Homo sapiens: one gene and its partner. The protein of the gene in region 1 interacts with the protein of each later gene in a pairwise test. Each region holds a gene or a part of one and is shown in the gene's direction. Other genes may lie near its edges.

Region 1 (3,899 bases):
GCCAAGCTTTTGAGCAGGCAGCCAGGTAGGCTTCCTGGAAGAGGCAATATTGAAGCTGGGTTTTGAAGGATGTATAGGAGCTTGAGGTATTCTAATATCTGCCATCAGTAGCTGCTTGCTATGTTTTGGATATTAATAAAGATCATCTAGGCTTCATAGCAACTCAGGACCAGGGGCATCTACTGAGAGGAAATGGTGCTTTGGAGAGACTGGACATTTGTCCTGGGGCATGCTGTGAGCCCCCACCTCAGTCTGATGTCAGGATTTGAACTCTGGATGTTGGACTGAGTTCCTGCCACTGTCTCCAAGGGACAGGAAGGAAACACACCGGGGGTGCCGTGTGACTGAGCCCTCTGTGTGCCAGGGAGGGATGGCACCTGGACCACCTTACAAACCTCCCATCCAGAAAGACCCTAATCCCGGAGCTTGGGAGGGTGCGACACTGCCCCGGGACCTCCCTGAGGGATGCAGCCTGGGAGGCATGCAGGGCGCAGAGAGGGGGTGGTGGGGCTGCTCTCTCCTCAGCCCACAGCCCTCAGCCTAGGGCCGCCAAACCTGTCCCACCCTTTACCCATTAGGTGAACACACCCCAGGACCCAGCAGCCTGGATCCCCTGCATATGCCTGGACACGCACCCAGACACAGCGTACACCCTGCGCACAACACACACACCGCGCGCAGGTCCAGCCGCGGCTCCAGCCCGACCAATCGCGCCCACGATCTGCTCCTCCCGCGGACGCGCAGGGGCTGAGTCCGACACGCGCCGCGGCAGAGACGGCCGATCGCGACCGCGCGCCTCGCTCCCCTCCCCCACCTCCCCGGCCCCGCGGGCGGCGCCGGCTGTGATCTCATCCCCTGAATTATCGATCGGGCTCCGGGCAGCCTCGCCCCTCCCTCCCTCCCCACCTGCCAGCGCGTCCCGGCCCCTCCCTTTGTTCCCGGCAATCAGCCCTGCTTGGGGCGGGGCAGGTGCAGGGGAGCTCCAGCCAAGTCGGGCCAGGAGGCTGGGTCCCGGGGTGACAGTGACACCCCGTTTTCTGGTGCAGAAGGAACCGACCCTTGAGGCCAGGGAAGGTGCGGCCGGTCTCGGAGAGGTTGAGGCTGGGGATGGAGCGACCGGCCTGGGAGGCTGAGGCCCAGAGCTCAGATGAGCTGGTGCGGGACTGGGCTCCCCAGAAGTGAGGGAAGAAGGGCCGCGACCCTCCAGCCCGCTCCCCTGAGTTACAGCCGGAGAAACTGAGGCCGGGACAGGCCGCAGAGCAGGGGCCCGGCTCCGCTCCTAGCCCCGCCCCCCCCCCCCACCCCCGAGCCGGCACTCCTGGGTTTGAGCTTCGTCTGTGAGCCCTCGGCCGCGCCCCTTCCCCTCCCCGCGCCTCAGTTTCCCCACTAAGAAATAGGGGTGACCCTAAGGTACCTTCTAGCTGCAACAACGGAGAGGGAGGGGCTGACCTTAGGGTCTGGGGTTCTCTTTTCCCTGGCCGCGCCTCCCGGGGCCTCAGTTTCCCCACTAGGAAATAGGGGAAAGAAGGGATGTGGAATTTCTAAGCTTCTCCAGCTCGGTCCTTCTGCGAACTTGGGCGGCGGGCGGGGGTGGGGGGCGCAGCGGGGAGGGTCGCTGACGGGGTTCTGGGTTCAAAGCCCCGTCCCGCCTTGGCTGCGGGTTCCAGGCCAGCGCCCGGTGTCCTCGGAGGGCCTCAGTTTCCCCAGCCTCGCGGCCAGGCTCCGGGACGAGGAGGGCCGGGGTCCCAGGGGCGCAGCCCCCCGCGGCTGCGCGCTGGGCCGGGCGGATGACATCACCGGGCCGGGGGGCGGGAGGGAGCGGGCGGAGCGGGAGGGCTTCCTCCGCGCCAGGCGCAGCGCCCGGTCGGGCTCCGTCGGGCGGCCGCGGCCATGACGCAGGGTCCGGGCGGGCGCGCGCCCCCGGCGCCCCCCGCGCCCCCCGAGCCCGAGGCGCCCACCACCTTCTGCGCGTTGCTGCCCCGAATGCCGCAGTGGAAGTTCGCGGCCCCGGGCGGCTTCCTGGGCCGCGGCCCGGCGGCGGCGCGGGCGGCTGGGGCCTCGGGGGGCGCGGACCCCCAACCCGAGCCGGCGGGCCCGGGGGGCGTCCCGGCGCTGGCGGCCGCCGTCCTGGGCGCCTGCGAGCCCCGCTGCGCCGCGCCCTGTCCCCTGCCCGCGCTCAGCCGCTGTCGGGGCGCGGGGTCGCGGGGGTCGCGGGGCGGGCGGGGGGCGGCGGGGTCCGGGGACGCCGCCGCCGCCGCCGAGTGGATCCGGAAGGGCAGCTTCATCCACAAACCCGCGCACGGCTGGCTACACCCCGACGCCAGGGTCCTGGGGCCCGGGGTCTCCTACGTCGTGCGGGTGAGTCCCCCCCACCCCCCCCGGGAGCCCGTTCGCGGCGGCCTCCCCTCCCCCACCCTCTCCTCCGGGACCCCCGGACCCCGCGAGCCAGGTGTCCCCTCCCCATCCTTCCTGCTCTCCCGCCACCCCGGACCCCCATCCCCGGCCGGCGGCCGGCGGCTGCCCCCACCCGGAGGCGCTGGGGTCCGGGTTCCCACGGCGTCACGTGGGGAGGGGCGGGGAGAGGGCGGCGGGGGAGGGGCGCGCATGCGCAGGTGCACCGCCCCCCACTCGGACTGGGCGGGCGAGGCCGAGAGCGGCGAGCGGCCGGGGCGTCTCTGCCACCGGAGCCCCCCGGACAGCTGTTCACGAATGACAGACGGGGCCCGAGACGCTGGCCTGCGGTGGGGGTGCGGGAAGGGGTGTTTGGAAAGGGGCTGGCGCCCGGACAGACCCCAGGATTCCAGATGGGAGGCAGCAGGGACTTCCAGGGCGGCCAAGGAAGCGGCCTTTGTTTATTTACCTTGGGTCTTATGATAAATGAACCTTTTCAAACACACGGGGAAGTCGGGCGCCTGGACACAGCACGCCTCCACCTAGGAGGGTAACCTTCCCCTCTGCTGACGGGTCTGCCCCTCTCTGTGGTTTATAGTAAACCGTGTGAAGTCACCTGCAGGGGTGACAGCGCCGTGCATAGTCCCCCGTCTTCTGAGAGAGCAGCTGTCCTACAGCTGCAGTCATTACGGCGTCTGGGAAAATGATCAGCCACTCCCGCACGCCACTACCGGTGGGTGCTCCCAGCTCCTCCCGGCCTCTGCGGCCAGGAACATTAGCCTGTGTTCACATTGGGTTGTGTCTTTGCTTTTCTGGACACTGAGTTCAGTAGGGTCCTTCCCTCTACACTGAGTTGAGAAGGGTCCTTCCCCTTACACTGAGTTCAGTGGGGTCCTTCCCCCTACGCTGAGTTCAGTGGGGTCCTTCCCCCTACGCTGAGTTCAGTAGGGTCCTTCCCTCTACACTGAGTTGAGAAGGGTCCTTCCCCCTACGCTGGGTTCAGTGGGGTCCTTCCCCCTACGCTGAGTTGAGAGGGGTCCTTCCCCCTACGCTGGGTTCAGTGGGGTCCTTCCCCCTACGCTGGGTTCAGTGGGGTCCTTCCCCCTACGCTGGCTTCAGTGGGGTCCTTCCCCCTACGCTGGCTTCAGTGGGGTCCTTCCCCCTACGCTGGGTTCAGTGGGGTCCTTCCCCCTACGCTGGCTTCAGTGGGGTCCTTCCCCCTACACCGAGTTGAGAGGGGTCCTTCCCCCTACGCTGGGTTCAGTGGGGTCCTTCCCCCTACGCTGGGTTCAGTGGGGTCCTTCCCCCTACACCGAGTTGAGAAGGGTCCCCCTACAATTCCTGTGCCGTAGGAGTCTGACCTTATTACCTTATATTGGGAACAGGGTCCTTGCAGATGTAACCTAGTCAAGATGAGGCCTACCTGGATCAGGGGTCTCTGTAAGGAGAAGGAACTTTAGACTCAGATGCACAGAGGAGCGGGCCGTTAGGAGACAGGCAGAGGTGGG
Region 2 (3,899 bases), on another chromosome or scaffold:
ATACCTGTTCTGGCTTTACAGACACAATGTAGATTCATTGCTGGCAGCAGGTTTGGAAAGTGTTGTCTCTTTATGAGTTAAAAATATCAAAATGGCATTTGAAAAAATGTATTAGCAAATTAAACCTTTGTACATGGTACTATGGACCACTTTCCCCCAGAGTCAAATGTGTGTCTCTCCTGAGAAGCCCTCCTTGGGTTTTCCCTGCCAATAAATGTGCCTTTACTTCTCTGAGCTGATGGAGGACTAAACACCCCTCCAGCACTGGAATGCCGGTCCTGCAGCCACTTCAAGTGTCCACCTTCTTATCACAGTCCAAGCCCTTTAGAAGGCAAAGATGATGGCTCTCCATCAGTGTTTTCAGCCCTAACCCAATGCCTGGCCCCTGTTGAATGCTGCAGAAGGACAATGCTGACAGCTTCTCCTTGAAAGAGGGTGTGGGAGTGACAAGCAGCTCTCAGGTGAGACCAACAGACACTGTGGCTCCGCACGTATGTCCCAGGCTGTGTTCTGGGCTGGGGGACCAGCAAGGAGAAGGATCAGCTGTCCGCTTCCAGCTGTTCTGAGGGATGATGCTGTGGGTTTTAGAGGAGGCAGGGGTGCGGGAGGCAGAGAAAGGCGCCAGGAAGAGTGGTGAGGAGAACTGGAAAAACAGAAAGCGCTGGTGAAGCCAGCAGGCAAGCAATGACTCCGGCAGTCTTCCTTGCCTCTGAAGCAGAAGGGATCCAGGGACAGTTAGTGGCTCAGGTCCTGCGGCTCCAGGTGCCCAGACGTGCATTTCCTGTGTGGAGTGGCCGGGGCCTCTCCTTGGTGTGCAGCCCAGAAATGTGGCAACTTTGGGTTACCCAACCTTCCTAGGCGGGGAGGTAGTCCAGTCCTTCAGGAAGAGTCTCTGGCTCCGTTCAAGAGCCATCACAGTCCCTTGTATTACATCCCTCTGACGGGTTCCAATAGGACTATTTTTCAAATCTGCGGTATTTACAGAGACAAGACTGGGCTGCTCCGTGCAGCCAGGACGACTTCAGCCTTTGAGGTAATGGAGACATAATTGAGGAACAACGTGGAATTAGTGTCATAGCAAATGATCTAGGGCCTCAAGTTAATTTCAGCCGGTTGTGGTCAGAGTCACTCATCTTGAGTAGCAAGCTGCCACCAGAAAGATTTCTTTTTCGAGCATTTAGGGAATAAAGTTCAAGTGCCCTGCGCTTCCAAGTTGCAGGAGCAGTTTCACGCCTCAGCTTTTTAAAGGTATCATAATGTTATTCCTTGTTTTGCTTCTAGGAAGCAGAAGACTGAGGAAATGACTTGGGCGGGTGCATCAATGCGGCCGAAAAAGACACGGACACGCTCCCCTGGGACCTGAGCTGGTTCGCAGTCTTCCCAAAGGTGCCAAGCAAGCGTCAGTTCCCCTCAGGCGCTCCAGGTTCAGTGCCTTGTGCCGAGGGTCTCCGGTGCCTTCCTAGACTTCTCGGGACAGTCTGAAGGGGTCAGGAGCGGCGGGACAGCGCGGGAAGAGCAGGCAAGGGGAGACAGCCGGACTGCGCCTCAGTCCTCCGTGCCAAGAACACCGTCGCGGAGGCGCGGCCAGCTTCCCTTGGATCGGACTTTCCGCCCCTAGGGCCAGGCGGCGGAGCTTCAGCCTTGTCCCTTCCCCAGTTTCGGGCGGCCCCCAGAGCTGAGTAAGCCGGGTGGAGGGAGTCTGCAAGGATTTCCTGAGCGCGATGGGCAGGAGGAGGGGCAAGGGCAAGAGGGCGCGGAGCAAAGACCCTGAACCTGCCGGGGCCGCGCTCCCGGGCCCGCGTCGCCAGCACCTCCCCACGCGCGCTCGGCCCCGGGCCACCCGCCCTCGTCGGCCCCCGCCCCTCTCCGTAGCCGCAGGGAAGCGAGCCTGGGAGGAAGAAGAGGGTAGGTGGGGAGGCGGATGAGGGGTGGGGGACCCCTTGACGTCACCAGAAGGAGGTGCCGGGGTAGGAAGTGGGCTGGGGAAAGGTTATAAATCGCCCCCGCCCTCGGCTGCTCTTCATCGAGGTCCGCGGGAGGCTCGGAGCGCGCCAGGCGGACACTCCTCTCGGCTCCTCCCCGGCAGCGGCGGCGGCTCGGAGCGGGCTCCGGGGCTCGGGTGCAGCGGCCAGCGGGCGCCTGGCGGCGAGGATTACCCGGGGAAGTGGTTGTCTCCTGGCTGGAGCCGCGAGACGGGCGCTCAGGGCGCGGGGCCGGCGGCGGCGAACGAGAGGACGGACTCTGGCGGCCGGGTCGTTGGCCGCGGGGAGCGCGGGCACCGGGCGAGCAGGCCGCGTCGCGCTCACCATGGTCAGCTACTGGGACACCGGGGTCCTGCTGTGCGCGCTGCTCAGCTGTCTGCTTCTCACAGGTGAGGCGCGGCTGGGGGCCGGGGCCTGAGGCGGGCTGCGATGGGGCGGCCGGAGGGCAGAGCCTCCGAGGCCAGGGCGGGGTGCACGCGGGGAGACGAGGCTGTAGCCCGGAGAAGCTGGCTACGGCGAGAACCTGGGACACTAGTTGCAGCGGGCACGCTTGGGGCCGCTGCGCCCTTTCTCCGAGGGAGCGCCTCGAGGAGTGGCTGGCCTGGACCCGCGAGCATCAGCGCTCAGACCGGGTCCGCGCTGGGGCTGTCCGTTTGCGACAGGATCGCTGATCCCTTATCCAGCTGTCGGGTTGGGGTCTCACTGCCGAGGCCCTGGGCACTAGGAGCAGCACGCACCGGGACCTGCCTGGCACCCAGAGCCCATTCCCAGAGGACCTGGGGCAGGTACGCAGGGTCCCCCGGAGCCGGGAGCAGAGGCTCCTGAAAGCCTGCCAGGCTGCCCGGGGCTGGGCTGAGGCCGGGACTTTGGTGATATTGGGCACTGGCCGCGACCTCGCGTCACGAGAGTGTAGGAGGGGAGCCGATTTGGAGGGGACTCGTGCCTGCGGGGGAGCAGGAGGATCTCAGGAGAGGGCCAGCGCCGGCATCCCATGACCCGCTTGAGTCCCCAAGCCGGACTGTCCCGGGGAACGCTCGGCGAGCGCCCGCTCCTCCCCGCCGCTCTCGGACCGCGGGGCCCCAGTGCGCTGCGCTCAGCCACCCGGGTGGGGCCTCTGCCGGGAGCAGGCGTGGTGCGCGGTCCAGTCCGTGTCGCGGACATCAGTGACCCTGACCCACAAGGGCAGCCCAGGGCCCAAATACCGTTAACTTACTGACTTACAAGCCTAGCCTTTAAAATCCGAGCGAAGAGAGGGCGGGCGATTTTGACCAAACGATGTGGTTTGAGGAATCGATGAGGTCCGCCCGCCACCTAAGTCAGCCTTCGCTGGGCGTTTGGGAGACGGGCGGTGGAACAGTCAGGGGCCGGGGGTTTTACCAGCAGTTAGACCGCCGCCATTGAGGGGTCAAAGCCCCGAGGAACTTGAGGGTTCGGACTCGCAGTCTCTGCTCAGTGGGGCTGAGTGGCGGAGATTTGTGCCTCGTTCCCCTGGGCGCAGAGAGCCAGATTTCGGAGCGCCTTTCTTTTAAGCATCGTGGAGAAAAGGTAAAATATGAAATAAAATATAGTAATATAAAATAAGTCATTGCAATGATTCCCGGGAAGAAAAGTCAATAGGATGGAGCGTAGTACAACAACAACAACAACAAAAAGCTTGTTAAACCCAAAAAGCAGTAATAATTAAATATTCTTTCTCAGTGGGAAGACTAACTAGACCGTCAGTTTCCAAGTAACAAGTAATAGTTCCAATTAGATTGGAGAAACTACTAAACCCGGAGACAGGGCGAAGTGGTAACTTCTGAGAACTCACTGTAGGTTGGGAAAGGTGCTAACATAACTATATTAAATAAAATGTTGTATTTTCTATTTCACAAATACATTTTTTGTTTTGAAAAGTCACTTGTATTAAAATATAAT

What was found.
Region 2: the proteins of SHC2 (region 1) and FLT1 interact in a two-hybrid assay, tested with the Homo sapiens proteins (2 studies listed by BioGRID).

The regions. Positions count from the first base shown.
Region 1 is NC_000019.10:458,988-462,886, reverse strand, and holds the start of SHC2 (SHC-transforming protein 2), read left to right. Parts: upstream 1-1,853; 5' UTR 1,854-1,890; coding exon 1,891-2,358; intron 2,359-3,899. UniProt on the Homo sapiens protein: Signaling adapter that couples activated growth factor receptors to signaling pathway in neurons. Involved in the signal transduction pathways of neurotrophin-activated Trk receptors in cortical neurons.
Region 2 is NC_000013.11:28,493,252-28,497,150, reverse strand, and holds the start of FLT1 (vascular endothelial growth factor receptor 1 isoform 1 precursor), read left to right. Parts: upstream 1-2,022; 5' UTR 2,023-2,307; coding exon 2,308-2,371; intron 2,372-3,899. UniProt on the Homo sapiens protein: Tyrosine-protein kinase that acts as a cell-surface receptor for VEGFA, VEGFB and PGF, and plays an essential role in the development of embryonic vasculature, the regulation of angiogenesis, cell survival, cell migration, macrophage function, chemotaxis, and cancer cell invasion.